Linked DNA regions of Homo sapiens. The protein of the gene in region 3 interacts with the protein of the main gene of each other region in a biochemical or structural test. Each region holds a gene or a part of one and is shown on either strand. Other genes may lie near its edges. The genes, in order: FRS2, ATXN7 and SORBS1.

The links.
Region 1: the proteins of SORBS1 (region 3) and FRS2 form a complex in vitro, tested with the Homo sapiens proteins (one study listed by BioGRID).
Region 2: the proteins of SORBS1 (region 3) and ATXN7 form a complex in vitro, tested with the Homo sapiens proteins (one study listed by IntAct).

The regions. Positions count from the first base shown.
Region 1 is NC_000012.12:69,569,547-69,580,781, reverse strand, and holds the end of FRS2 (fibroblast growth factor receptor substrate 2), read right to left. Parts: intron 10,452-11,235; coding exon 10,265-10,451; intron 9,507-10,264; coding exon 9,348-9,506; intron 8,665-9,347; coding exon 8,501-8,664; intron 6,778-8,500; coding exon 5,827-6,777; 3' UTR 989-5,826; downstream 1-988. UniProt on the Homo sapiens protein: Adapter protein that links activated FGR and NGF receptors to downstream signaling pathways.
Region 2 is NC_000003.12:63,999,867-64,008,197, forward strand, and holds the end of ATXN7 (ataxin-7), read left to right. Parts: 3' UTR 1-3,596; downstream 3,597-8,331. UniProt on the Homo sapiens protein: Acts as a component of the SAGA (aka STAGA) transcription coactivator-HAT complex. Mediates the interaction of SAGA complex with the CRX and is involved in CRX-dependent gene activation.
Region 3 is NC_000010.11:95,556,434-95,568,443, reverse strand, and holds the start of SORBS1 (sorbin and SH3 domain-containing protein 1), read left to right. Parts: upstream 1-7,072; 5' UTR 7,073-7,124; intron 7,125-12,010. UniProt on the Homo sapiens protein: Plays a role in tyrosine phosphorylation of CBL by linking CBL to the insulin receptor. Required for insulin-stimulated glucose transport. Involved in formation of actin stress fibers and focal adhesions.

The DNA.
Region 1 (11,235 bases), on a different chromosome or scaffold from region 3:
AGGGTGGTTTGTTGCACAGCAGTAAACAATCTAAACAGTCCTTTAACAATGCCTTTGAATACGGATTTATCAGATCTGGCTCCATTTCTGAAAAAGCCTCTCAACCAGTCTCCCTGCTTTATTAAAATACCGTAGGGCCAGCTACTTGGGAGGCAGAGCCAGGAGAATGGCATGAACCTGGGAGGGGGAGCTTGCAGTGAGCCGAGATGGCGCCACTGCACTCCATCCAGCCTGGGCAACAGGGAGAGACTCCGTCTCAAAAAAAAAAAAAAAAAAAAAAAAAAAAATACTGCGCCCTTCACGTATCCATGTTGTCAGAGAAATCTTTCTAAACTATTATTTTTCTGGTGTTTAAAATCCTTCAAGTTCTCTCACCTAATTTAAACAAAAGCTCCTTAGGATTCTGTGATCTGTTTCTCATTTCTCCTTTCTTCTGTATCCCCCAACCCTGCCTTTGCTCTCCATGCGCTTAGTCATTTGGAACCTCTTGCAACCACTGAATGTCATGATCTTTCTATACCTCTGTGCCTTTGCACATGCTATCCCTTCTCCCTAAGACATCCTCTCTAAGCTACAAAGACTTTCAACAAACCACCTCAGGGATCACCCCCTCTAAGAAGCTTTGCTTGAAAACCTCCACCCCTAGGCTGAGTTGGATGCCCTTCCTTTGTGTGTGTCTTTATCATGCCAGTTACATCAATCACTTGTGGACATGTCCATCTCCTTCATTGTTTAAATAATTTCCATCTTGACCTGTACTCAACTAAGGCTTTGCAATGTCACTCAGTGGCTAAAAACAGGTTTGAAGTCCCAGAGCTGAGAACTACTATTTGGAATGATCACACAGCTAAAACTGTGAGAAAGCCTGTCATATAGTTACAATTTCATTTTGATATCTTCATTTTGAAAATGGAGGCAGTGATATGAGACTAGGAAAGAAAATGTCACAAAGTTTCAAGTAGTATGTGAAATATAAATACAATAAAACTTTTAAGTAGATATCCGACCAAACGTTTTATTGGGGTTTTATTGCAATCTACTTTCAGCAATAAGGGGAAAGTGAGCATGAAAAGAACTCCAATCAGACTTTATTCAATAAAGCAGCTTTTCATGAATGCTTCAGGTCAGTGTATGATCAGCTCAGCTTCCAGTATCAACTTGAGTACCTCATTATGGATATTTATGCTAGAATGACAACAGTAAGGCATTGCAAAATCCAAAGTCATCTAATATTAAACCATATTTTACATAATTTGTAGGACAGTATACTAATACTCTACAATAAATAAGGATTTAAAAATGTGTTGCTTAGCCCTTGAACTAAATTCAATTACTAGCTTATTCTAAGTACTCCAGTTAATAAACGTTTGATTGTAAAGAACTCTGACTTCTCCAAAGATAAAAAAAATTAGTTGTCATGACAAAAATTAAGCTTAAAAAGCACATTCACACTTGTCCTTAAAAGCAAGTTTACATCATATATGAGAAAACTTTTCATGCCTGATGACATGGCTTATATGGCAAAAAACAGTCATATGCAAAGGACAACTAGAGGGCAATCGTCCCATCCCCACTTCCTCCAAAAAGCCACACTCGGCCTCAGTGTAAAAGTTATATTTTATTGCCATGCTACAAAATGTATGAAGTTGGCACTGATAGGGAGAAATAGAGAACAAAGGGTGGGAAGGGATAGAGGGAAAATTATGTTGTTACATATACAACAAGGTTTTATTTTAATTAACAGTGGTTACGTTTTGCCAATATTAAAAATGCAAACCAAAATTTAAAATGCTGATCTGAAACAGCATTAAGATACAATGTATGCATAGTACAGTATCACTTATGTCTTTTTATTAGAGAAATATGGAATGTTTATAAAAGAAATTAACCATGGGGGTAAAATTCATATTTCATATACAATTTGGCAATGGTAGTCCCACTGTTGGACAATTTTTTATAAAAGAAAAAATTAAAAATCTAATAAGCTACCTTTATACAAAGTTGCTATATTTATGCCTTTACGTAGGAAAAAAACATTTATAATGCAAATTAGGACATACAATAGTCTTACAATATTATACAATGTAATGAAAATAAAACATAACACAAAGTTTGTCCTTTATAAAATGTATATTTTGCATTACTAATGCAAATGTGGCACACTGGTGACTACTGTACTACTTATACCAGTCTGTTTCCATGCTATAACTGTCCAATTGCCATAGAACTGCAATTATAATGATGCTACAAAAGAACTGTGTTATACCAAAAATGAGGAAGTAGGGATGGGGAACAGGGATGTAAAGAACAGGAAAGATAGATAGGGTGCTGGTTTGGGCAGAGTATACTGTGGTACGTCATAAAATATGTTAATTTTTCAAGCCAAAAACATTTTCTTTACATTCTGTAATTTCGTACCAATGCCTTTATTCAAATTTGGCAAACATCAAGGAAAAGGTAATTAGTACCATATACCTCACACATCAGAAATATGAATGAGATGCCAATACATCAGTTACTTGTGAATGATGTCTCTGATGGTATGTCTATTTCAAGAATATATGTATTTATACACACACACTACACATTGCACAAAACATTTGGGCATTATAGGTTAGGAATAGCACGGGGGAATTGGGAAGTACTTTTTCATCTGTTAAAACCTTTACCTTGAGGCAAAAATATGGCGGCACATTGTTGGGAAATTATGAAAACATAAGGCCCCTGTCCCATTTTTAATAGAACATTATTGAGGTACATTTTTATATGCTGTGCCACAGTTTTGGGGAGGGGGAGGAGATAAACACTAGCTTGACTTGTTCTATTTATAACATTGAACGCTGGAGAGGGTCAACATTAGTATCTATAAAAACAAAGATTGCTTGGCAAATTTTCCTAAGTCCCAGATATGATGTATTCTGGATATACTGAGAAGTGAAAAGCTTTTTGCTGAATCTTAAAGAGTAAAGTGCATATCTCATCACTCCACAGCAGCAGTAAATAAAAGGAAATATTTGCCAGTCTTCCTGGAGGGAGGGAAGGCACCATATTTTCATTTTTAGAAGAAGATGAAACTGGGAAATAAAACACACTAAGAAAAAACACAAGTAATACCAATATCAGTTTCCAACCCTAGCATGGGATAGATGCTGTTATGATTTGTATGGATAAAACAGTATTCTATTTGGAGGGAAAACATTAACAATGATTATATTTCCAAAACCAAAAAGAAGGATCACATGGTCTACCAACAGAATTATCTAAAATTAGATCTGCCTCAGAAAATCTGAGATATATGGCCACAATTATATGCTAATAAAATATCAATATTTCATTCTAAAATGCACCTAGTAATAGGTACATCCTTCGAGGACACAGCTTAATGCCCATTACTAAACTACTGCAAAGGACAAGTAGTATTCTAAATTACCTTTTATTAAATAGGAACACAAGTGATTTCTAGAAAATATCTAGAAATTAACACCAGTTGTATATATTTTCCTAATACTCTTATAGTACCTAAAATCAAATTCTTAGCAGACAAATTGGTCCCATTTTCCTTTTTAAAGCACATAGTATTTAAAGCATAAACTGTAATGATTATATTGGAGTTATCTAAAAAAAATAAAAACTAATTAGAATCCGGGGGAAACAATGAAAAGGATGACGGAAAGAAAGAATAAAGTACCCAACCTCCAAAATGAATAAATAGATCAGCCCTTGCATTTGGAGATTAATGTTCTGCCTTGACTGGCTGTTTCAGAAAAAAATGTGCAATGGTTCCATCATAATTCTTATTCCACATTACAAAAACTATTACATAAATTTGGCACAATTAGCAATTTACTCAGAAGAAAGGATAAGTGGAACAATATATTAAAAATGGAACCTGCATCATGGAAACTGCACACCTATACCACTGCTCTCTTTTAAGAGAACAGTGAGCACTTTAATAAGCACCAAGTTCACAGGGGAACAAAAGGGAGAAAAGAAAATTCTGCTATGCACATAGAATGATAAAATACACTGATATTGATTTATAGTAAAGACACTAAAAATGGCACTAAAACGATAAAGACACCTTTAATAATTTATTTTCTTTATAATGATCCCACTCTATTGTTCTCCTAATCCATCATTGTCCTATGATTCGGTTACTGAATAGGTTGGATGCCAATATGACTAAAACTTTTTCATGCTAAATTAACCTTAGTTATATCTGGTAGATCCAGATCATAATCTCAAACTTCCTCATATTTAGAGAAAATAGTAAAATATTTTGCAAGGTTACCTAACCTTTTCCACTCTACCTTCTCTCGTATTCTCTAGTGTTTAGGAAATTGGAACATCTTTGATTTTCCAAGAGTTTGACATATGGAGACTCTTCAGTTTATATAAACTTTAATTCATTTTAAATCCTAAATTATGATACAATCTCACTGCTACAAGACTTCCACTGTACCTGCTATGCTGGCAACAATATTAATATTTCATGGAAATCGAAGGATAATCAAAGATCCAGCTACAAGTAAAAGGACAGCAGAGCTGAGGAACACTAGAGTGGGCAGAGTACAACTGCAGCGTGTAGCTGGGGGAATTACTGCTAAAGTGCTGGGGAAGAGTGCCCACAGAGACAACACGGTACACCTTGAGGGAACTTTGCATGTTAAAAGTAGCTTCCTTTTTTTCTCAGTTTGCTAAAGAGATCACCTATGGACACAAGCAAATTTAGAATTGGAGAATGTTTTTATCAACTTGAAAAGTAAACAGCTTATAAATAAATACTGGACAAGGGCAACCCTGTTACAGACTAACAGTAAGTTCCAAATGAACCTTCAAAACCATAATTTGACAAAAATGCAAACTAAACAACAATGAACACATAATCCAATTTCAAAACTATATACAAACTCAAACATTTTAAATTGAAAAGGACATAAGGCAACAAAATAAGACATCCCAAACACCAAAGAAAAAAACTGAAGATAAATGGAAACCTAATGGCACAAATGCCTCCAGAAAACAATGTGTTGTCAACAATCTATAGGAGAAAAACTTTCAGGAGATTGTGGTTCAGATTTTCAAATGTTTTTGGGTAAAGTGACCTGAGACTGATTCTTGAGCCTATTATAATTTTAAGATATCTGGACATGCCCTTCAAATGACATCATGAGATGAGTAAATAGAAAATCTTGTCTCCTTCCTGCCTTTCAGTGCACCAACAGCAAAGCACACTCATGGACACAGGCCGCTTTCTAGTAACACTGAAGGCAAAGGAGCTGACTGGTGTAAGAGGAGGTGCGGTACTTCTGTTTCCTTTACATATGTTTTGGCTCAAGTCAAAAAGCCATTAATTAATGAAATAAAGGATTCCTCATGTTACATGCTGGAGGCCACATACTGTGAACACTGAATCTACGAGCATTACTTTCAAAGCCTATAGTTACCTGTTAGCAATGTACATTGTCAAGAGGCTTTATAAAAAGTTTTAAAAGCCAACCATGACTTAGACATGAAAGGTATGCGTTAAGTCCAGAATATTGATAAAAATCAACCAGCATGTCATTTACTTCAACTCTCATTTTAAATAGGCACTGTGAAAACGGGAATGCTGCTGTACAACGAGTAGTATATAATGAAATTAGTGTTCTTTAAGGAGTACCTGCTCTACATTAATTCCCTTTAGTTAAAGATGCACATGAAATATTCAGAAAAAAATTTTATCAGTCTATAAAAGGAGTTAGTGTTTAGAAATGAAAATGAAGCACTTGCATCTTCATTTTTAAAAACTTCACAAAGGTGCAAACAACACAATGCTTTCCAGGCTCACATGGGCAGATCAGTACTATTGTGTCTAGTTTTCCTAGATGTACCATCATCTCGTGGCAGTGCTTTCTGCAAATTTGACATAGCAGCAGTTCTCTCGATGTCTATCACGGCATACAGCTCTGTGCGCCTGGTAGGGGTTTGTGGAAGGGGAGTTGTAGGCGTTTTTGGAGTCTGAGGGTTGTCAGAGTCACTGCCACCTTCCAAGTCAACCTGTATGTAATTAAGCTGCCTGTGTTCTAAACTTGGGCGTCTGATATCAAAGTTAAAGACTGTTGGTGTACAGTCCCGACGCCTTGAATATTCTATTTTGTGAGCACTTGCTGGCACTGTTACATTCTCTGTATTTACATAGTTATGCATTGGATCTAGATTATTATGGTAGCCATTTAGAGATGGGGTCTTTGGTCCTAAATTGTCATCTTCATCCCTACTTAGCTTGCGGGCTTCCCAAACAGGAGGCAAAGATGGTAGATTTTCATAGTTTAATAATGCAGTTCTTCTCTGAGCTGAGTTGTTGATATTCTGGGTATCTGAGGTACTGGTGGATGTCAGACGACCTCTCCTGACCCCTGAGGCACTAGGGATAGATAGCCCATTTATATTTTCATACACCAGTTTGTTAACAGAGGGTGCATCTCTTCGTTCATCACTGTCATAGCCAGTGTCCCATTCTGTGTTATTTGCTCCACTTCCACTAACTTGATCTCTTCCAAGTTGCTCCAGTTTCTCTTTTTCCATTAACTGCTTTTGAACAGGGGTTGGCCCTAAAACAAATTTGACTCCTTCAGGTTCAAGAAGAATCTGAGGATCCCTGTCCTCAATACTACTTGGTTCTTCTTTTGGTGTGCTGCTTTCAGCGTTAGAAACCCTCGCCTCCAATGGAACATGCACACTTGTGCGGTTTTTCCGCTCTTCTTGCACACCTGTAGTGTTGACATAGGTATGTACCTAAAACAAAACAGAAAGTGAATTAGTTAACTTACTTAAAAAAACAAAACTGAAAAAAAGCCTGACCACATCAGTTAATTTTATTGACAACAGTTAACTGTATTAACTTTCTCTCCAAATGTACTCTTACTTCAAAACTTTTGCACCTGTTTTTTTATTAATAAAAAGGTGGAAAGAGAAGGAGAAATGTAGAAATGTCTTCCTAATTTGATAAAAGAATAACGACTTCAAAATAACACGCAGGCTGGGCGCAGTGGCCCATGCCTGTAATCCCAGCACTCTGGGACACTGAAGCGGGTGGATCACTTGAGGGTAGGAGTTCGAGACCATCCTGGCCAACATGGTGAAACCCCGTCCCTACTAAAAATACAAAAATTAGCTGGGCATGGTGGTGAGCGCCTGTAATCCTAGCTACTCTGGAGGCTGAGGCACATGAATCATTTGAACCCGGGAGGCAGAGGTTGCAGTGAGCCGAGATTACACCATTACATTATCAGCCTGGGCAACAGAGTGAGGCTCCATCTCAAAAAATAAAATAAAATAACATGCAACATTATATTTGATTGTTAAACATGATAAATATTATGTAAAAAATAAAAATCAGGAACAAAATAGGGATTATCATTTTGCTGCTGTTTTAGAGGTTCTCAAAGCATTAAAACATGATCCAGAAATAAATAACGACTTTGAAAAGAGATAAGTTTATCCTTATTTACTGATGATCTGAATGTATAAGAAGATTAACTCCACTAGATTTAATAAGAGTTCTGTAAAATGCATATATATAAAATAAATGCCACCAAGTAAGAAATTATCACTATTTAGAAAAGCTTAATAGTATTTTGGGGAGATAATATAAAAATATTTACAAGGGTCGGGCACAGTGGCTCACGCCTGTAATCCCAACACTTTGGGAGGCCGGGGCAGGCAGATCACTTGAGGTCAGGAGTTCAAAACCAGCCTGGCCAACATGGTGAAACCCGGTCTCTACTAAAAATATGAAACAATTAGCTGGATGTGGTGGCCTGCGCCTGTAATCCCAGCTACCTGGGAGGCTGAGGCAGGAGAGCTGCTTGAACCCGGGAGGTGGAGGTTGCAGTGAGCTGAGATCATGCCACTGCACTCCAGCCTGGGCGACAGACCAAGACTCATGTAATTACAGTAAATAATATAACAACTCATTATGTAAAGAACACAAAGAAACTGATTTTAAAAACACTAAAAACTTTTTAATGTGACATATGGTTTACAAAACATAAGTATAACTAATTAATACAGAGGTTCCAACCAGATACTTCATTCCACACATGAAAACTAGCATACTCGGGAACACTAAATAACTCCATAACATTAACAGCAAAATCTACCTTCCTACTCGTAGTTCACTGACTATAATGGCTAAAATATGAAAAGCAGCATAAACTCTTAATCCATTGGACATTCTTATAATGGGAACTGACCATTAGTTATGCCTTTCTTAATCTATAGATGTACCTCTTCTGTGAACCCACAAGCTACTGTAATGGTAAGTTCCCCTGAATACCCGCATATATTTGAGCATAAACCAGCAAATATATGCTATCTCCTCTGATTGTTCACTACAAAAGTAATTTACAAACAGATAAAGTTAAACTTCAAGCTGAATAAAATCTTCCAGTATTAGCACAGTGATACCCTAACTCTGAACAATCATTATTGCTGTTACACAGTAGCACATGCTTACTTGTTCCTCAGCCACAAGCAAAGGATGTGTAGATTCTTCCCCTACTGAAGGCAGGCGAGCACTTCCCACAGAAGGATGTCTGCTTGACGGATGGGATGAAGCATCTCCAAATGAGGGATATCGGGGATATCCATTAGGTAAGTTCTGAGCAGCAAATCCTGGAGCTGAGTTTTTGTTTATTGGTTTAAGGAAAAGGGGGGCGGGGCAGAGAGAATAAAAATGAGTAAGAATCGAATCTGTACTGAGGATTATAGGAGGTCTTTCTGCCAAGACAGCAGAAATCAGAGCACAAATAGTATTACCCCCAACTCCATATTTTACCTAATATGAAATACTGAATGTTTTCATTTTTTAAATATTTGAAGTACTTAGAACTACGGCTGTGTTTTTTTGTTCTGTTTTGTTTTGTTTTGTTTTTGAGACGGAGTCTTGCTATGTCGCCCAGGCTGGAATGCAGTGGCATGATCTCAGTTCACTGCAAGCTCCACCTCCCGGGTTCATGCTATTCTCCTGCCTCAGCCTCCCGAGTAGCTGGGATTACAGGTGCCCACCACCACGCCCGGCTAATTTTTTTGTATTTTTTTAGTAGAGATGGAGGTTCACAGTGTTAGCCAAGATGGTCTCGATCTCCTGACCTAGTGATCTGCCCGCCTCAGCCTCCCAAAGTGCTGGGATTACAGGCGTGAGCCACTGCGCCCGGCCTACAGCTGTTTTTAAAAACTGACAACCATTATACTTCTGTTATCCAGTGGTGATTTCTAGTGTGTTATTGATTAAATACCCACAATCTATAGCTTACAACTAAACGTCTGTTATTCAAAATGTGAAAGGGAAAAGGGGTACTTACTTGTAGGTGTTCGAGGTGTTCTAGGGACTTCCAATTCTGTCTGATGATTATTTCTTTCTACAACTGGCTCTTCCACCACATTTATACTATTATTTTGCATAATCTCTTGCAACATGTTAAATAATTCTTCTGCACGGGCACACTTAAAGGCAAAGATTCCTACAAATATAAACCAAAAGGGAAAAATAGTTAACATACCTTTAAAAAAAACTATAGGAACACTTGACAAACAGCAGAATTGTAAAGTAAGCATTCTACGCACCGAGTCAGAAATCCCTTTTAAATAAATATCTGATAAATTAATGATTATTCTCTGTTTCAAAACAAACCCCCGCCAAAAGTTCACAGAATAATTTTCATTCATCTAAGGGAGATGGCCCAAAATAAAGCTAATGAAATCAAGACCTGCGCACTTACGCTAGTCTGTTTCTTAACAGCAGGGGGAGCCCAACTCACTATTCCAAGGTGATCATTTGCCATGTAACAGGCCCCTTGGAAAGTCCCTAGGTGTTTTCCAATTGTTATCTTGTTTAATTATTACAATAATTAAAAGATAGGTATTACCATTTCCCTTTTATAGAGAAGAAATTTAACATTCAATGGAAGTCCTGTAACTTGTCAAGGCCATTCAAGTAGTAGGTAGTAAAAAAATCAATGATAAAGACACTTAGTCAATTTAGCTGACCCAATCATTTACTGAAAAATCTTAAAGTTGACATGAGCCAAAATTTCTCACATAGACAATGTGCTTAATAAACAGTTGATAAATTAATACACAGTATACTATATCTTTCCTTAACAATCTGTTTATTTTGGGATTTTTTTCAGAAGAAAAATATTAATTTAATCTTTGTATACAGAATAGCTGAAAAAACAATTTCAAATACAATATTTGGGAAAAAAAACAAAGGTTCTACCTTGTCCAGTTTGACACCTTCGACCACTTTCAAAAGAAAAGAGATTCGAGTCATAGCCATAGCGTCGCAGGCAGAGGTAGTGCCATTTTACTGAGTCACGTTTGCGGGTGTATAAAATCAGTTCTGTGTCTGTAAGTTCCATTATGCCAGAACCTAACTCATTCCCATCATCATCCACATTAATGACCTAAAAAAAGAAGGTGACAGTCATGCAAATATGTCACCAATTCGTCAGGAAAATGCATTGTTGCTAATTAGTTATTTGTAATTTGTTAGTTCATTCATCAACCAATGTGTGTATCAGGCATGGACTACGTAGCCGTGTAACACCCAGTTCAGATCTGTAAGAAATTTACATTCCCACTGGGGAAACAAAATGTAGAAACACAAAGTCAATACCACAAAAGTGTATGATTAATTGACAAAGGAATGCAACAGAGGCTGCAGAAGGCAGGAAGTGTGGTCTAAGGTTGTTGAGACACCTTCATTTAAGAGGAGGAGGGCCTTTAGCTGGACCGCTAGTATAAATAAATTTACGCAGAAAATAAAATCAGAGGGGAAATCTAGTGGGTCAGGAGATAAAGGGACATCATAAAGACACAATGTTAAAGCAGAACAAAAAAAGTACCTTTCAAAGACACCAAAATAGATTGGCACAGAGTTCATATGAGGAAAGGCTTTGTACTGCTGAGCTTCAGAAAACATCCAAAGACTAAGAGCAGTAGGTAACATTTAGGGAGAAGTTACTATTCCCCTGGGAGTAGGAAAAGAGCTTTACATGTATTTAACCCTCATAACAATCCTAGACTACACTGTACAAAAATGGAATTAAGACTCAGTAATAACGTAACCTGCCCAAGGTCACAAAGCTTATAAAGTGACAGACTTACACCTAGGTTTGTGTGATCAAGGCTATTCTTTGTAACAGATCGAGGTCAAATTATCAGACACAAAACAGCTATAGCAGCATT
Region 2 (8,331 bases), on a different chromosome or scaffold from region 3:
TCCTTTTACTACCATTTTTTTTTAACACTGTCATCTGTAGGTCACTCTCCAGCAGTTAGGCACCTTAACTGGAGACCAGAAACCTTCCAGAGAACACAGGGCTGCATCCCGAGCAACCCTCTGAAGAAGGGAATTAGGCTTTAGATTTTGATAGCAATGTTCCAGGAATGAAATATAGATGTTAGCCCAAGACACCATGACAAAATAGCCCAGCCTTTTGAGAGTAATTTGGGAAAAGAAGCTGTCAGAAGTTTCTAACTTACAAACTGGTTTGAAATTTTTGATGCCCAGACAGCAAGTATAAATCATTTTGGAGGCTTACTTTTCATGATACAAAAGCAATTCTGTGTGATTTTTTTTTTTAAGAAGAAAGAAAATGCAAGCTAGTTTTGAGAAAGGAAGGCCAAATTGGGTCGGGGGAGGGTGGGAGTGAGGAAGTTAAAATCACTATAGGGAGAAAAAACTTTTTTCAAGATTTCCAAAGAGATGAAATTTTCTTAATCCTTTTAAGTTTTCATAGTAAACAGTATGGCAGATTGGGTTGGTTGTCCTACCTGGTCTATTTTTAAAAGTCACCTTTTAAAGTGACATTATTAGATACACTTAAATGTTTCCAAGGCACTCTCTACATTACCCTTGTTTTTCTCTTTGGATACTGTCCTGGGACTAAGTGTAGATTTCTGCTTCAAGCACTTCTGGCATTGTGTGTTTTTGTATGCACTCCCCTTCATGCCACTTCAGATGTTTATTTGGATGTGGTTGGGGACGAGAGCAGACACCAAGGAAAGGGAGTTGGAGAGAATGTAAGTCCTGACCTGAAGGTCTTTTGTGATGCATGTATAGGATTGCCCTGACACACACCCTCCTTTCTTGGGATTATACCAGCCATCTTCCTGAGAGTTTTGGAGCCCTCTAGGATATTTTTTCTAGTACCCCACCCCCCACCCCTAAAGAAAGACCTTAATATGTTAAAACAGCATTGCTTGGAGAAGGTGTCATTGAATTCCGGGACGAGCCGGAGCCTTTAAATGGGTGCTTCCACCACTACAGGCTCCTGACACGAGTAACAGGCACTGTTGCTTAGAAGAACACACGAAGTTGCCGAACACAGGGTAAAATTTCCAAGGCGCTGATCGTTGCCCTGGCCAGGGCCTGATGAGAGCCAGTCAGTACATTCTTTTTTTCCTACAGTTCTTGGGTTTCAAACTTCAGTTTCAGGGAATTTCAAGTCAACAACAGGTAGAATGAATAAACTTGGTTACCAGCCTAATAATGTGAATTGCTACAGAATTATTCTTATTATGTAAGAAAACAAAAACTTTATGCAGATACTTTAGCTATAAATTGATGTAAAATACTGATTTTTTTAAAGGAAGGAGAGAACAGTATCTTGTTCAATTATTATGCAATCAATCAGTAAATGTTTTTAAAATGATACTACAGGAGAGCTTAGTAAGGAGAGGGCATGGATGGGCCAGTTTGGCATAGTTGGGAGAAATCAGTCTGGTTTCCATCCCAGTCGGGGAAGAGAGAGGTGAGAGGGAATCAGAACGTACCTAGTTGATTCCTTGGTGACAAGTGCAATGGGGTATGGGTAGAATTTATTTTCAGAGCCAAGAGGACTTGATGGTTATAAATAAAGTTGCCTTTAGCAATGGAATTTACAGATCGATCATGTTGTTCCGAAAGATGTGAATAGGATCCACAATAACAAGTTGATTCAGACTAATGTAGATATTTAGATTAGCAAGTATTGAACATTTGATTTCTTAGACTGAGGTTTTAAATGAATTTCATTATTTCTCCCGGTAATACACAGAGCATCGGGATTAGGAAATTAGCCATTTTGGATTCTGTCTGCCACAAACAGACCTATTCTAAACAGTGCTATTAAATTTTAGACTGTTGTTCAAATATTTTATTTTCTCCTAAACTACTTTTTATGGTGATGAATAATTAAGACCATTTAAAACACGGGAGTACAAGTATTTTTTTGAATTAAATTAACTTGCAAAAACCAAATTTGCAGTGGTTGGGTTGTTTCTAGACAGACTTTGGTATCAATTTAAAACCAAGATAATTTTTATATTCTTTCCAATAGAATTTCATGACAACTCCTGCAGTTTTCTTAACCTACAAAAAAAAAAAAAAAGTGCTGCAATGATGAACAAAGAATTATACAAAACCTACTTTTGTATCTTTATTTTGGAATTTCTTGTTCTATTATAAATATGGAAGTATCCCTATTTCAGAAGACATATTTTGTTAAAAATGAATTGTACATATTTAAATATGTATTTTTGCACAGGTCTTTTTTTCTGATATCCTGTTTTGGTACAATTGAGATCATCTAGTATTTATTTATTAATTAATAAAAGTAAATACCTTTTTATAATTTGAAGTGGTTCACTGCCAAGCCAATAGTTCTAGAACCTGCCTCCTTTACAGTTTTAAGGGATGCCTCTGTTCTGTGAAAAGTCTTTGTCCCTTTTAGTGTCTCGGGAGTGGATTCATACAGATGAAGTGGGCATTGCTTCTTCCTGGTTGCCTGGTTTCCCGATAGACTACATGTAACTAAGTGACACACTGCTTTTCTTTTGTTAGTATTTTATGTGTGGGAGTATGTGACTGCGTGTGTGTGTGCCTGTGCGTGTGTGTGTATACTCAGCACATGTATGTTACTATGTGATGTGGTTTAAAACTAATGGAAAAAACTGAAAGTGCCTGAAACTAGTTTTAAGCTTAGACAGAATCTCTTTAAAAAGACTTGAATGTTCAGTTGAACTTTTGGAGTTTGCTTTTTCCACCTAAATATTGTTTCTAAAATTTTAGGGGCGGAGTTGAAAACCACCAATGCTGGTAATTTTATAAGGTATTTTAAAATTAAGACCTCTTGGTTCATAGTAATTCAATTGGTGATGGATTGCCTGGTGGCACCAAGGGTTACAGATCTTTTTGTCAGCCAGCAACTTACACGATGTGTCCGTTTTGTTATTCACTCATGAAATACAATTTAAAATATTTAAAATATTTTGTATTCCAAAAATATAATACAAAGAAGTACCTCTGAGAACATTGAAAAAAATGTATAATTTGAAAAATGTAACTTATAAGGGCAGCTGTCTTCCTGCAAGAGTTCTGTTGCCAAGGAATTTCTTAATGTCGCTCATTCTGTCCAGGGGGTTTGGGGCGATTGGGCTTTGAAAAAATATTCTTAAAAGTTTGTTTAGCAGAAAATAATCACTTTTACATTTTGTGCAAAACATTTTACATTTTCAGATAATTTAAATGAGCACTACATACTGTCAGTGTGAATGTAGGGCCTTGAAAGCATTTTGCTTTTTTTTTTTTTTTTTTTTTTTTGAGCTTGGTTATAAAAGCAATCTCCTGTGTTAAAAACGTGTGAATAGTTTGATAATTTGTACACATAATCAAGAGCATCTCAGCTGGACTTTGTGTTGGCTGCTGTATAGAACATGAACAAATGTCAAGGGATAGAAAATTACTTTGGATATTTAAAAGAGAAGAAATATATAGTCTATTTGTTTTGTAACAAGTTTCTGTAAATAAAATAATTTATACTATTTATAAGAAAAGGTTGTGCTTTGCTTTATAAGAAATTAGCTTGTGGAACAAACATGTTACTAAACGGGCAATAAAATTAGGACTTCTCAATAAATAAGGTTGGCTGCATGAAATATTGTACGTTTCTGCCTCGTTGTGATACTAAACCCTTTCAGTCTACTCTGACTTTTCATCACTTTTGGCATGGAACACCCTTGTGAAGCCCCTTCAATTTAGCCTTCCTCTTATATAAGCTAAATACTTCTAAGGCCTGGGGATGTTTCCATCTGGGGGCACAAAGCTTTGCTTTGGATAAATTAGTAACTGTGTAAACAGTGAACATTACTGTATTCTGGCCTTGCATGTTTGTGAAAGAAACGAGGGAGTTGATGGATTGAGAAACACATTCTATTTGTACTTAGGTGCAAATTTGATGACATGTAGTTTTGGTTTAAGATAAGCTTTTTATCCAGACCCGGTCTAATCTCTTCCTTTCTTTTACATACCTCCCTTACTGGCAATACAAGTGCATTTTAGTATTATTTGGAACACAGCATAATCATTTACCTCTAGAAATCCAGACATTTTTACTGTTTGCAAATAAACCATTCTGATAAATTATTTTTGTTGCTTAAAATAAGAGGAGGAACCGCTGTGTGTTAGCAAGAATGTCCATACCTGATATGAAAGAGTCATGTTGGCTTCAGTTCCTACTGCCCTGTGGACTTCCCATTCCCTCCTTACTTGAGTCAACCATCCACTCAGTACTTTCCACAAATCTAATAATGAGGTGCTCTCTGTAGGTAAATCCTTTCACTATGGCTTGTCCTCAAACCTCCCAAGAAAAGGTTCAACTGCTCAATCTCTTAACCTTTTTAATTCCATTCCCTTGCAGGTATCCCGGCCCTGCATAACAAGATGATCCCAACTCAAGGAAAGGGGTTTAGCAGTGTTGGATCTTGGCGTATGTGGGATTTAACCAGGCAGAAAGGCAGACAAGAGTAAGATTCTAGGCAGAGAGAGCAAATGCGTCGAGCATGGGTATGAACATGTGAGGGATAGAGAATAATTCTGCAGGAAGTTTGCTGGATGGAAGGGCCTTATAGGGTTAGAAAAGCTGGTGTCAGATTGTCAAGGACTTTGAATGTCATGGGGCTTCTCTTCCAGGAACACATGGGATCAGGCTTAGATTAACCCAAATGTAATTGTCAGAGCCCAGAGATATTTCATGGTCCAGTCCTAGCACTGTGCAGCTGCCAAAAGTCAAAGCCATTCAAATCTGTACTGAAAACTGTGGAAAAGCAAAGGAGCACTTAAGTCTCTTTCCCCATGTCTTGCATTCTCACTCTCTTTTGCTTCAAAGATCTGTCTTTACCTGCCCCTGTCCCCAGTCCTAACAAAAAGCACTCCCCTAAATCAACTCTTAAGTTCCTCTCCCTTCTCACTCCTTTCTTAGTCTCCTCTTTCTGTAAGAAGTTCTTGCTCCTGTTGTTAATGGAAGTTAATTAAAGTAGTATTTCACCTTGTAAGGCTGTAATTCTTGGCACTTGTTATCCTCATTTTCTACATCCAAAGACCATGGACCAGAATATCTCTTAGGAGGTAAGGGAGAGTGAGGCTATCAGCCAAAGAAAAAGTCTCCAGGGGGAAGGGGAGAATCACTTATAATTTAATACTTTGTGGAAAAAACATCTCTGCCACCTATGGCCCTCCAATAACAATGGAAGACAGAATCAACAGGTGAGAACCTTGGGACAAAAATAAGTTACAAAGCTGTTGTAATCCAGGTAAGAGCTATTAAGTTTCCAAACGAAGGCTGACTGTGAGGATAAGTGATACTGATTTCAGAAATCTTTAAAAAGTAGAACCAACAAGCCTTGAGGTCTAACTCTGTTCAACATTAAAGGGAAGAGTGAGTCTAAGAAGACTTCAGGTTTCTAGCTTGGCCAAACCAATTGAGCTTTAAGTGAAATGTGCGATATGGTAACAGAGAAGGAAAAAGACATAACGATAGATTTGAGCTGCTGGTGGGAAATTCTGGTTTAGTGCCCAGCTGGCTGTACAGGCTGGTTGGACTTTAGGAGGGAGGTTTGAGCTGGAAAATAAAGATGGAGAGTTGTCTTTCAGTTTTAGATCATCAGTGAGGTCATAAGGGTAGATGGAGTTTACCTGGGAAAATTAAGTAGCTATTCGATTTGGCTTATTATTATGTTAAAATAATACTTCTCTAGTGAAGTACTTAATATGCCAGATACTGTGCCAAGCATTTTATATACATCCTCTCTTTTACTAAGCCCTCATAGGGCAGGTATTTTGATTCCAATCATACTGATTGGAACTCCTAAGAAGGTATCTTGCTTAAGGTCCCACAACGAATAGGTGGCAGATCCAGGGTAATTCAGGTCTGTCAGAACAGTGATTCTTAATTTTTTCCCTCCTCAGACTCCAGGAGTCACATGAAGTTATGCATCCTGTCTGACCGAGGCACAGGCACACCACATTTTTATATTCCGCTTCCAGGATATCACAAACCTGAAGCCCATCCTCCATGGCCCAGAGAGAAAACCCAGGACAAAACCTTGGAGAAGACTATTTTCATGAAGACAAATGGAGAAGGAGCAGTAGAGTAAAAAGAGAGGTAAGGGAAGGCATTGAGATGGTTTACAGGGTTAGATGTTTTGAGTCAATCCCATTATAATTACCAATGCTATCTACCTATTTAGTTAACGTTTTATTGCCCTGCTGTTTTCTCCAGGATAATTGGAACAGCATGTATTGGTTGGGTGGAAAAGATAGAACTTGAGCAGGGAGATTGCCAAAGAGTGAAGATGTGGCTGAGTGATTGATGATGGTCTGAACTGGGTATTCAGGGAAGAGAACTAGAAGCCAACCATGTAGAATCTATGCAGGTGCTCTTAAGACATTGGTTTGACTGGAATTATCTTCTTGTTAGGTCTTAGGAATCTCCTTCCAGGTAACTTTTTCTATGATTAGACAATTGATTTGTTCAGGGTCACAGAGCAAAGTCCACATTTAATTCCACATGGCCAATAAAAGTGAGGGGCTACAAGGTGAGATCCAGGGGCCAGAGTTATCAAAGTGATACAGCACTTTTAGGAATAGGACAGGGAATGGAGGAATTGGAATTCCAGTATTACTTTCAAAAGCAGAACTGGCCAGAGGAATTGGAATTCCAGTATTATTTTCAAAAGCAGAACTGGCCAGAGGTGCTTGTGATTCCTGGGTGGAAACCATGGCAGTGGACAGAAGCAGCATGGAGGAAAAGAGCACTGGAATTCAGGCTGAGGAACTGTGAAGCCAAGGGTGTTGTATAGGTTGTCCATTTCAAATTAGGGTTGCTTGGTTCTGGGATGATTTGCATGGAAGAGGGGAGAGTGACTTGGAGATGTGTGATTGAGGACAGTGAGCACAGTGAGTTGATGGTGTTGCTGGGTTATAAGCAGCTTCAAAGAGAAGGCATTTTGAATGAAGGTGGAAACATAATGGCCAGGAGAACAAGCAAAGGACTAGGAAACAGTGAACTTCATCTTGGCCTCAAGTTCCTGAGGTGCATATGAATAAACAGTCTCTAACCCAGAGGGTTTCAAGAAAAGCAGAGTCCTCAAAATCCAAAGGTAGAGTTTCCCCACATTGATATTATACTAATTACACGTATAACAGTACTTTGGAAAAGCACAGGTCTCTGGTCACCTCTAAAAGGCAAGGTTGGTAAGGAGGTCAGGGTGTCACCTGTTGGTAGTCTTAACTAAATGGTCTCTTCAAGGGATCTAAGGATGGAAAGGGGATATATAATGGTTGGATTAAAGGCTCATCATTGATTAGCAAATTGTCCCTTTTGTTTCTTAAACCCAATTTGTACAGGGAAAGTTATGCCACTGTAAGATATTTTTAAATGGGGAAAAAAAAAAAAAAAAAAAAAAGGTTATACCCTTTGACCATGTATGTCAAGGTTAAAATGGCCTGGATCAGATTGCTACAAATTCCTGATAGCCTTTGTATTCCTTCAGAAACACAAGCATAATGCAAATCTGTGGCTCTACAGCTTTGAAACCAAAACTAGTGATTATCAGAGCTTTTCATGTTATCCAGATGGGGATTTTACCCCACTCCCCCATTGCCATTGTGGAGGCACAGGTTTGTTACCAGCAACTACAAGTTTATGTAGCATTGGGAAGGTCAGGGATTATCATAGTTCCCTCCACGCTTTTTCCCCCATAATCATGGGGGCAGATATTTCAGCTGTCAGCTGTTCATCTTAAAAACATTAGGTTAACAGCAGCACCAAGGACTAATTCAGAATATGAAATTACAGAAATGATTTGCTAATGATTTAGTAGCCTTTTATCAGTTAATGTTTGGTCAGGTTATAAAAGACCAAATGTGTTCAGTCACAAAATCCTAAGTGTATTGAGTATTGCATGCTTAGTGATCAAGTTGTAGGCATCCTTCTAGCCATCTGGGGCAGGTAAAAGTTGGGTGCTTAACAAAAGTGGTTTTTACACTGTTTCTGTCCTAAGAGACACTGTTTTTTAATAGCTTAAAAATTGACCTAAAGCTGTTATTTCTAATACAGGAAATAGATTACCATAATTTGACATAGCTTTAAAATATTTAGCTCTTACTCGATAGATTTGCTATAAAATCAACTTTTACTGAGGTAAGAGAAACTGGCATTTCTGCTTTAAAAATAATCACAAAAGATAGTTTATCCTGGCGATATCATTTCACACTAGGATAGTTACTTTT
Region 3 (12,010 bases):
CTTCACTTCTGCCCTCCTCCACTCCCCCCAGCACTCTGCATCTCCACTTGAGAAACGCTGAAGAAGTGGAATTAGCCTTCCCAGGGCACCCCTGTGACTTGATTTGGTCCTGTGTAATGAGTTCCCTCAGTGAACTGTTCCAATCACCTCTGACAAGCTTCCAGCAGCTTCCAGAACATCAGTTATTCTGTTAACACCATTGTCGTTGATTTTTTAACCTTGTTAGGGTTATATTAGTGAGCCTAGTTGCTCTGTTTCTGAAGCTGCAGTTTTTTTCTCTCAGTCCATCAAGATGATCTCACTTTCTCTGGCTCTCTCCCAATTTCCCTGTGCCACCTTCTTCTTCCTCCTCTCTCTCTCCTTATTCCTCTTTCCTGGCACCTCTCCTCATCTCTTCAGTCTCAATCACAATGCCTCTCTTAGAGTTATCAGCTGTATCCTCCAACCTAAAAATGGTTTTCTCAAGTAAACACTTCATTAATGTAATTACTTTAGAGTAGGAAGCCTTCTAAGGTAAACTCAGCATGTTCTAACCAATAAATCCCCTGCCCCAGTCAGAAAAAAAAACTGATCTCTCAGCAGCTGCCTTCAGATTGGCACCTTGTGTTACCCTCTCCCAAACCCCAACCTTCCATTGACACAGTAGAAGTTGACAGAAGTGTATTCTGTACTTGTAATTTCTCTCAAAGGTCCATTGAGGTCAACTTCCTTCTTTCCCCTTCCCTCTTTCCTTCCTTCCTTCCTCCCCTCCCCTCTCCTCCCTTCTTGTCCCCTCCCCTCTGCTCCCCCCTCCCCTCTCCTCTCCCCTCCCCTCTTTTCTCCTCCCCTCCCATCCCCTCCCTCCCTTCCTTCCTTCTTTTCTTCTTCTTTTTTACAGGATTTTGCTTGCCTGCCTGCCTGCCTGCCATCCTTCTTCCCTCCCTCCCTCCCTCTCTCCCTCCCTCCCTCTTTTCTTCTTTTTTTAAAGGATTTTGCTCTGTTGCCCAGGCTGGAGTGCAGCGATGTGATCATGGCTCACTGGAGGCTGGAACTTCTGGGCTCAAGGTATCCTCCTGTCTGAGCCTCCCGAGTAGCTAGGACTACAGGTACACACTACCATGCCCAGCTAATATCTATGTATTTTTTTTTTTGAGACACAGTCTCACTCTGTTGCCCAGGCTGGAGTGCAGTGGCACGATCTCGGCTTACTGCAACCTCCATTTCCTGGGTTCAAGCAATTCTCTTTCCTCAGCCTCCCGAGTAGCTGGGATTACAGGCACCTGCCACAACACCTGCATAATTTTTGTATTTTTAGTAGAGGTGGGGTTTCGCTGTGTTGGCCAGGCTGGTCTCATCTCAAACTCCTAGCCTCAAGTGATTCACCCGCCTCACCCTCCCAAAGTGCTGAGATTATAAGTGTGAGCCACCATGCCTGGCCTTGCCCAGTTAATTTTTAAAAATTTATTTGTGGAGATAGAGTCTTGCTATGTTGCCCAGGCTGGTCTCAAACTCCTGGCCTCAAGTGATCCTCCTGCCTCAGCCTCCCAAAGCACTGAGATTATAGGAATGAGCCACTGTGCCTGGTCAGGCCAACATTTTAAATGTCTTTATTTTGACTATCTAATAGCATAAAATAATCTCCAAGCCAAACCTTGGATATTTGGTCAAATACAGTACAATATTTGGGGTGCTATTATGTGTACAAGTTTTCTCCCAAGCAACAACACAAGACACACTGGAGCAAGTGTTTTTATTTTTATTACCTTTTAGATACAGCATCTTGCTCTGTTATCCAGGCTGGAGTGCAGTGGTGCAATCATAGCTCACTATAACCTCAAACTCCTAGGATCAAGTGACCTCCCAACTCAGCCTCCCAAAGCACTGGGATTACAGGCGCGCACCAGTGTGCCAGCCAGAGCCAGTGTTTATAGATTGATAAACAGAGGCCCTGTGACCAGAGTCCTGGGGTTACTCATACTCATCCTATCCCTGCTTCCCAAGCACAGCAATCCCTCCTACTCCTCTGGGTTTCTACCTGGCCCCATAGACTTCTCTTGATCAACCTCCACCATTTCACCAAACTTCCCTAAAGCATTGTCCACCAGCATTGACCTCTAAGGAATGTGGAATTCTTGGCTCGGGCGTTCCATCATCTTCAAATCAGTTCCGTGCCCTGAGGCACGCGTTTGTAGATTTACTTTTTTCTCAGTAATTAATCAGTAAGAAACAAGACAATCAGTTATTAAGGAGTTTTGCTCTTTCCACTACTTGCTTCGCTTTCTGTAAGATGCTACAGAAGGCATTAGACAAAAATCATCAAGGGGTGTTTGGTGATACAGCAGCAAAACTCTTTGATTCATAACTCTCTTTCTCTCATTTGGTTTTCTTCTTTTCTCCTGGCATTCTCCAGCACGGCATCTCTGAAAATGACTATGGTCAATATTTCGGGTAACTGGGAAAACAACTTACCAAAACCAACGTGTTCTAAGAAGTTGTCTTTCTCAACACTGCCTCCTAGTAATGTTAAAATAATATTCACTTATTGATGCTTATGTGTGTCAGGCAGTGTGTAGGCACTATCCATGCACGATCTCATCTTCAGCTTGCAAGTAAACCTATGGAGGGTTGTGTTTTCTCCAGGTTACAGATGAGAGAAGTCTGCACACTAGGCACTGGAGCTAGGATTCTGCCAGGTGTCTCTGGAGCCCGCAGCCTTAACTGTTATGCTACTGCCAGCTCCAGGGCCTCTAGTTTATTTCCCTCTCTCCCAATCTGTGTGGCTCTGAAGATGAAGTAAAGGCTGACGACTCTGGGCTGTCCTCTGAAAAATCCTGCTCCCTCCTTTCCTAATTCCTCACACTTATGACCTGCTTGGGGATGCGTCCCACAGCATGTTTATGATCCTGGTTTGTGTGCATGACTCTCCGCCTGATATTTTAAATTCTCTCCAACAGCGGAAGGACTGCTGGGAATAATCTGATACACATGAAGAGAAAACGAGGAGTTACTAATAAGATTAAATTAAACTTAAGCACATTTTAAACAGCGTGTAAAACACAGGACTAAGCACTGTTTGAGATGAGCAGACACAAGGCACGACCTCATGGAATTTACAATCTGCTGGGGAGAGGAAATGAGGGATAAGACTACACACAAATATACAGGAGTTTATGCCAAATATGGCAAGTTCCATGAGAAAGGAAGAAATGAAGCACTGTAGGGCTGGAAGGCAGGAGTCCTCCCGTTTCCCTGTGGACCCAGGTTTAAGAGAAACGGTGGAGACTGAGACTGGAGAACAGGAAGTTTTACTGTTTTACTCAAGGGTCAGTCACTGATGCACTGACAAGGCCTCAAGGTTCACCCTCCCCAGGACAAGTTACATAATTTACAGGGCTCAGTTCAAAAATTAAAGGCAGGGCCCTTTGTTCAAAAATGAAGAATTTCAAGATGGTGACAGCAGAGCATGTAATCAAGTGTGGGGCCCTCCTCAGCACAGGTTGCATCCACACAGGGCTGGCCCTGCCCAAACGAACCTCCCTGGGCCTCTGATTCCCTAGGGCTCACCTTTGGGAAGTAGGGAGCAAGTATCTCTCTCACCACCTTGTAGCCAGCACCTAGCTCAGGGCCTGCTGCCCAGATGAATCTATGAATGACTGGAGATAGGATGAACTGACACGATTACACCTGATGATTTCTTGGGTTGCTTTCAGCGTTAAAACATTGAAGGACTGGCCAGGTGTGGTGGCTCACGCCTGTAATCCCAGCACTTGGGGAGGCTGAGGGGGGCAGATCGCTTGAGTCCAGGAGTTTGAGACCAGCCTGGCAAAATGGTGAAACTCTGTCTCTACCAAAAATACACAAAATTAGCTGGCCACAGTGGCCCATGTCTGTAGTCCCAGCTACTTGGGAGGGTGAGGCAGGAGGATCCCTTGAGCCCAGAAGATCAAGGCTGCAGTGAGCCGAGATTGCGCCATTGCATTCCAGCCTGGGTGACAGGAATGAGTGAAACCCTGTTTCAAAAACAGAAACAAAAACAAAAACCCAACCCATCGAAAGACCGTGACTTTCAACATTTCTTGGAGGAGACACCTGAGATGAGTCCTGAAGGACAGTAGGATTTTTCTTTTCTTTTCTTTTTTTGAGATGGAGTCTCGCTCTGTCGCCAGGCTGGAGTGCAGTGGTGTGGTCTTGGCTCACTGCAACCTCCACCTCCTGGGTTCAAGCGATTCTCCTGCCTCAGCCTCCCGAGTAGCTGAGATTACAGGTGCGTGCCACCACGCCTGGCTAATTTTTTGTATTTTTAGTAGAGATGGGGTTTCACCATGTTGGCCAGGCTGGTCTCGAACTCCTGACCTCGTGATCCGCCTGCCTCGGCCTCCCAAAGTGCTGGGATTACTGGCGTGAGCCACTGCGCCTGGCCACCAGTAGGATTTTTCTTTCTGTTTTTTCCACTTTCCTTCTTTCTTGACTTTCCACTATTTTACCATTTCTTTCATAAATCCTAATGGCAATGTTATGCCTTACAGTGAGACATGCAACAGTGACACAGACTGGAAACAGCAGAGAGGTTCAATATTTGAGGGATGACCTGAAGCCTTAGGCCTCCCTTAAGATTCCTTGAGATAGTGTAGATGAAATCTTCATTGATAGAGTCTGGTTTTTCATCTTAAAATTATTTTATTTTCACTGGACAAGTTGGTAGATGTTTATGAAGAAAAAAATCAGAAGACTATGGATGAGCAAAAATAATTACTTGCAATCCCATAAGAATAGTTCTAATGGGATTGCAGTATAAAACTAGTTTTCTACCTATTTTTCCATTCAATAATCTGAGCATCTTTTTTTTTTTTCTTTTTTTTGAGATGGAGTCTTATTCTGTTGCCCAGGCTGTAGTGCAGTGGCACGATCTTGGCTCACTGCAACCTCCGCCTCCCAGGCTCAGGCAATTCTCCTGCCTCAGCCTCCCACAGGTGCACGCCACCATGCCCAGCTAATTTTGGATTCTTTAGTAGAGATGGGGTTTCACCATGTTTCCCAGGCTGGTCTCAAACTCCTGAGCTCAGGTGATCCACCGCTGCCCACCTTGGCCTCCTAGAGTGCTGGGATTACAGGCGTGAGCCACCACTCCCAGCCTATTATGAGCATCTTTATGTGTCAATAAACCTCTTCATTTTTTGTAGCTATTAATATATGATATTCTGTCATATGGTTGTACTATTATTAACCAATGCACTCAAATTGGATATTTGGATTGTTTTGATTTTTTTTTTTTTTGGCTATTCTAAAATGGTGTTGCCCTGAATTTGCTGGGTAAGTAACTAGTCTCTCTACCCTTTGTTATACACCTCTGTGGATAACCTCAGGATAACGACACTATTCCCACCTGGGGTCGTGTGGTGGATGTGAGTTAACGCATGTAAAGCTCTTAGCACAAGTATAGTACGGTGCATAGCAGCCTAGACGTGCTCAATAAATACTAGCTGTTTTATTACTTTATAGCCCAGAGAGAGCTGTCTTACACAGATTGTGGAGTAAATAAATAGGAGAGCCGGGGAAGTGTTCTTTGAAAAGCTGCAGGATGAGGTGCAGATAGGGGAAGGCCGTGGGCTGGGGGCTCCCTAGGTTGAGTAGTTCCCCAGTGTTTTCTCATTTATAGAGTAAGCTTCCAGATGGCTAGGACTCTTCTTTTTTTTTTTAATACACAGCAGAGGACACCAGGTGGTCACCAAAGACTTGTCACCGTTCCCTGACATCTAAGAATCTTTGCTGATGAGTTTCCGATCAGTCTGTGCAGTTATCAAGGCCAGTCTTTACCCTGCCACCCACAGCCTGTTCACTGAGAATGTGCTCTGGCTGAAGATGCTTGCAAGGGCAGCTGACAAAAATCAGTTGTGCTCAGCCCAAAGGGCGAGTGTCTTATCTTCAGGGATGTGGGAAGCTGGGCATGGAGGGAGCAAGTTCCAGACCAGTACTTGCTGGCTCTGCGACCTTGGGCCAGCAGATTCCCCACTCTGATCCCTGTCTCTGTTTCCTTTTCTGTAACTCTGAGGGGGACTAGAGGAGGTCAGGAGAATGGCATAGCACAGTGGTTAGCTCTGAACCCCATCTAACACGGTGCCTTCCCCCCACTTGCAATGACCTTGTTGCATTGTATGCACTCTACTTTTCACATTGTAGAGGATCTTATTTATTTACTTGTCTCCACTAAAATGGAAGCTTCCTAAGGGAAAAGGCCTTGCCTGTCTTGTTCTCTGCAGTTAACACTGGGGTCCAGCACTGCCACAGAGCCTCTAAATATATGTGTGTTGCATGAGTGAAATCTCAGAGCCTGGGTTCAAATCCTGGTTGCACCACTTGCTGTGTGACCTCGGACAAGCCACTTAAACTACACCTCAGTTTTCCTGCATAAAAATAGTAATTATTTTCAGTTTTCTCACTAGAAAAATATGGATTAGTAATCGTTCCTCTCTTATCAGGCTAAGAGGATCAAATGAGGAAATATCCGGGAAGCATTAAGCACACTGGCTGGTACAGAGCACACGAATGACAACAGCAAACGTTTATGTAGCACGACGGCCAGGAACTGATCAAAATGCATCACCTATGTTAACTATGTTAATCTTCACTAGATTTTACGAAGTCGGACTATTATGCCATTTTACAGATGGGTAAACTGAGGCCCAGGAGTTAAATAACTTATCACTGTTATTTTACGTCTAAGGTTCCTTCCAAGCTCCCCGTGGGCGACCCTTCCGAAGGACCAGAAGGCGCGCCAGGCCAGCGTCCGGCCCGGCCAGGACGGAAAGGGTTACTAGGCCCGCGCGCCCGTTACCGGCGGAGGCCGGCGGGCTCACAATGCCAGGAGCCGGGCGCCGGACACTTCTTCGCCTCCCATCCGCGCACACGCCCCTTCCTGTCACGGCTGGGCCCGGCCCCGCCCCCGGCACCGCCCGCTGGCCGGGCGCTGCCAGAGTGGACGGTTCCAGAGGCATGCTAATGAGGGGGCGGGCACCGCAGCCCATTGGTTGTCCGCGGAGTGTCGGTGAAGTCAGCGCTGAGTCCCAGAAAAACAGAGCGGGGCCAGCTGCAGCGTGTAGTGCGAGTGGGGCGGACGCGCGCAGCCCGCCCGCCCGGCGACCAGCAAGGTAAGCCCGCGCTCGCCCGCCCGGCCGCGCTTGCCCGCTCGGCGGCGGCAGCGCCGGGGGTGTGCGCGGCTCGGCCCCCGCGGGCGGCGCCTTTGTTCCGCGCTCGGAGGAGGCGCATTTAAAGGGCCAGCTGTTGGAGGGACTTGGGGGACCCCCTCCCCCAGAGCATCCCCCCATGGGCACAGGGAAAGCGGTGGTCCCTCGCGGCCGAACCGTCCATCCTGCCTGCTCGGCGAATCCCCAGTCTTTCAAGGAAAGTTCCCCAGGGTGCGGAGGATCTGGGGGCTTCCAGGGTTGGGGGTTTTTAAATTTCCTTTTTTGGTGGGTGTGGGGTAGTACGATCATGGCCTCTGCTAGGAGAGAATGTCCGCCCGTCTCAGGGTGGCTGCAATTTGGGTGGGTGGAGGAGACATCAAAGCCCGAATGGGTTTGTGCTGTAAAGTGAAACTACCGAGGAGGGGCACCTCTGCAGCAGCCAGAGGAAGGCGGAGGGAGCGAGCGGCGGGATGGAGGCATCTCAGGTGTGTTCATTCATCAGCATCCCCTGGAGAGGGCGGCGGGAGGGGCGCAAGGACGACGCGGTTGGCCGGACCCGCCTGAATGAACGGGGACTAGTATGCGCCGGGGACACGGCGCCTGCCCGTGCCGCCCGTGCCCCTTCTTCTCCCCGAGTGGCTGACAGCATCTTGCTAGGCAGCTCATCACCGACATGGACAGCAAGCAACTCCTTTCTCCGAATTCCCCGGGCATCCCCTGCTACCACCTCGCTGCTTTCCGATGTGGCTTCCTTGATACGTGGTAGCGCCATTCAAGATAGAGGGGAAAGAGGCTTGAAGTCATTATGTTTCCTTCATGGGGGAATGTGCTGTCGAATTCTGCATCCCCATGCATCCGCTGTCGTAAGATGGCTTTGAAATTCACCAGTGCATGCTTTCTCCAGGCAGACAAGAATTTATTACGCTATTACATTGCTACGTAAAAGCAGAAGGGATCCCACTGAGCATGGCTCGTTTTGTTCAGTCCTCGGTTTTTCCCAGCATGTTCTGGGCGAGCCTTTGGATTTTTGTTTTAAACACTGAGCGTTGGGATGCCCCTGTTGTCACAGGGCCGACCTGCTGAAATTGCTGGAATTGGTTTCATCGTCAATAGGAGGGAGGTTCATCTAGAGACATCATGGAACCTATCTGGCGTGTCAGGCCTCTGACTCCATCTCTCCCCTCAACACCCCCCCCCCCGCCCAGCCCCCCGCGCCCTTTTTTCCTCTTAAGTGGAGGCGGGGGATGGATTGGCTGTCTTCACTCTCCTTGTGTTTTGAGCTCCTCTGCTTAGATTCAATTCTGTGGTTTTGGTTGGAAAGGTATCTTGGTGGTGATCGAAGAGAGGAGGGTTGGATTAAAAGTGGGGTGGACACAGAGGGGTCAGCAGCATCAATGACAGAAGACAGATGATGGACATATCTACAGCCTTCAGACACCGATGAGGCAGATGGCTGTCTACAGAGTGAGGGGCGTGTGTTTGGGCTGTGAGGGGGAGGGGTGGAGGAGGAGGATGCCTCCAGCAGTTTTCTGCCCCGCCCTCTGGATGCTGCCTTAAATAGCCCCTTGCCAACCAAGCTCTGATGTCTCTTTCTTGGCCTGAGGGGAAAGAAGGGAAGGGTTGGTCTGTTGGCACCTTTGCCCAAGGCACTGTTGGAGCAGATGGTTAGGAAAGGGTTAGTTCTCCAGGGGTTGCAGAGAGCACATTTCTCAGCTGGAGGGCCCTGAGACCACTCCTTTGGCGACTTCCCTGCAGGGAATTAGCAACTGAAATGAACTGCTGTCTACCCTGTGGGGTAAAGAGTTGGGAGGGTATTGTCATCTTGTGGACGATACCCGCCTTGTTGGCCTTTTCCTTCTCCTACCTGCTTTCATTTGTTGTAGTTGGAGAGTTTCTGTATACTTTTCGGAAGAGATTGGGCATATTGGGGAGTGGGTAGGAGTTATGGGAAAGGATGAGCAAATTCTTCCTGGCAGAACAAAGCACTGTTCAGCTGTTCCTCTCTTTCCCCTTCTCTAAAATAAGAGTTCAATACAGATAGCAGAGTCTAGGGTTTTCTTTGTAAACAATGAAAGGGCAGGGCCAGGAAAGAAAGTTTTTATTGTGCAGCATTGATAATGATCAGGTCATCCTAACTTATCTCCAGACCCTTCCCTGGATGTGGAGATAGATTTGCTGTAGAGGGCACTCTATGGTAATTTAGGATTTGACCTGTCTCTAGGAGAAAGGCATGGATGGTCTCAAAAAGCTTTGGTGGAGAAGCTCTGGACCAGAGGCAGGACAGCTAGCTTTGGTCCTGGCCACCAATCTTTGGGCTTTGGGCTAGTGGCTTCTGCTCTCTGGGCCTGTGTCCTTGCTGGTGAAGTGGAGGATGATAGGGCAGAAGGTCTTCCAGGGTTCCTGACAACTCCACTGTTCTTAGAGTCACAGTTTGTGATGGCATTTTCAGGTTCTTTCCTGTTTGCTAAATTGATAATAAATTCAAAGTATTGCACAATGGCATAGAAGAAGCATTCTAGGATGCAGGCTTCTGTTGGATTCACATCTACCTTTTCCTTGATTAGTGTGATTTGTGAGGTTTTACTGTAAGTATGTAAACAATTCAGAGCTAGAACGGTCCAGAGTGAGAGGCACAGACCCCAGAGTGAGTGGTTGTGGGAGATGAGGGTGGGATGATAGATTGCTGAGGAAAGGGAGTTTCTGTAATTTGTTCTCTTTCCCTGTGGATGTTTAACTTGCTGGTTTATTCATGGTTACACAGGTGAACGTTTACCTATCTAGAAGATGAGAGTTATAAAAGACCTCTGTGATTGCCATGTTCCTCCCCCTTCCCCGCCAAACTGAGGAATTTGAGGGGTTGGGAGGTTTGGCCATTTTTCCAAGGTTGCACAGCTAGCAAGATGTGGAGCTGGGGTGGGAACTCGGGGGGATAGATTGTAGATCTTGTTTCCAGATGTATCTGGGTTTTTTTGTTTTTTGGTGGTGGTGGTTGTTTTGAGACAGGGTCTCACCTGTCACCCAGGCTGGAGTGCAGTGGCACAATCATGGCTCACTGCAGCCTCGACCTCCTGGGCCCAGGCAGTCCTCCTACCTCAGCCTCCCGAGTAGCTGGGACCACAGGCACGCACTACCACACCCAGCTAATTTTTGTACTTTTTGTAGAGACAGAGTTTTGCGGTGTTGCCCAGGCTGGTCTCAAACTCCTGGACTCAAGCGATCCGCCTGCATTGGCCTTCCAGCATGCTGGGGTTATAGGCTTGAGCCACGGTGCCCGGCCTATATGTATCTGTTAAGCCCCCTCTTCCTCTGAGAGAAATGATTCTAAGATGGAATAGCGAAACATGAGGAGGAAATAGGAGCACAAGAAGAGAGAGATTGGAGAAACAGACGAGAAAGTAGGAGGCTGGGGACAGATTATGTGGGGAAGGGAAAAACACAGAAACCAAGCTTGGAGGAGAAAAGGATGGAGCTTGAAAGGGGGAGGCTCTATTGTCTCTGAAACAGCTGAGCTCTTCTGCAGCCCTTGGGGTGAAGTGAGGGGAGGTTTGGTAGCCTAGGATGGGGGGTGGGGGGGTGGACTGAGAGTTCAACCTCAGCCTGAGACTGTCTTGGAATCTCCTTGGGATTGCTCCTGTTGACCCTCAGATTGCAAAGTGTCATGGAGGCTGCTTAGTTTCAGGACCAACTGAGGCCTTTAGATCCACGGGAGCATGCAGAATGTGGACATGTGGGAAGTCAGGTGTGCGGGTGGTGATGCTGGCTGATGCTGAGGTGGGACTCAGTTCTGCTGAAGTCCCGGTTTTTTTGTAAATGCAAAACTCAGAACACTTTTCCATGGATTTCGTTTCAGTGCAAGCAGCATTTTCTCCTTGGATTTTCATCGGTGCTTTGAATGTTTTATGAGATAGTGTTTCGAATACTCCCTTTTCAGAGGAGATACTTGGAGATGAATGATTTACTGAATTGTAGCTCATTTGGGGGAGCTTCTGGCTTGTGACCTAAGCTAAGCCTCAGAATGTTTCAATGAGCAATTAAAGAGCTGTGAACAGTGGTTGACCAGAGCACTAACCATTCAAAGGCAAGGATAAAAGGTGATAATAGTTCAAGGTCTGGAGCTACAGCCAACAGCTGGCCATGAACAATGTAACTGACTTTGGCTAACTCTTCAAGCCCTAGAAAGTGTCTCTGTGGGTCCTTTGGTGGCTCCCCCTTTTTGTGTGCGGTTAGGCATGTGGACCCGTCCCTGAATCTTGCTGTCTCCCATTCTTCTTTTGCTACATCTCCCTCCACTATCCATTTCTTTTTCTTACCTCTTTCTCCTTGCCCTCCTCCCTCATTCTTTCTTTATTATCAACAATATATCTTTGTAGTTTCTTTTAATCTATTGCCATTAAAATTTCATGTTCTCTGTTCTTCATTTCAAATCAGTCGAGGGCCAGGCAAGGTAGCTCATGCCTGTTATCCGAGCACTTTGGGAGGCTGAAGCAGGTGGATCACCTGACGTCAGGAGTTCAAGACCAGCCTGGTCAACATGGTGAAACCCCGTCTCTACTAAAAATACAAAAATTTAGCCGGGTGTGGTGGCAGGCACCTGTAGTCCCAGCTACTCGGGAAGCTGAGGCAGGAGAATGGCATGAACCTGGGAGGCGGAGCTTGCAGTGAGCCAAGATCGCGCCACTGCACCCCAGCCTGGGCGACATAGCAAGACTCCGTCTCAAAAAAAAAAAAAAAAAAAAAAGACAAAAATTAGCTGGGTGTGGTGATGGGTGCCTGTAATCCCAGCTACTCAGGAGGCTGAGGCAGAAAGAATTGCTTGAGCCTGGGAGGTGGAGGTTGCAGTGAGCCGAGAT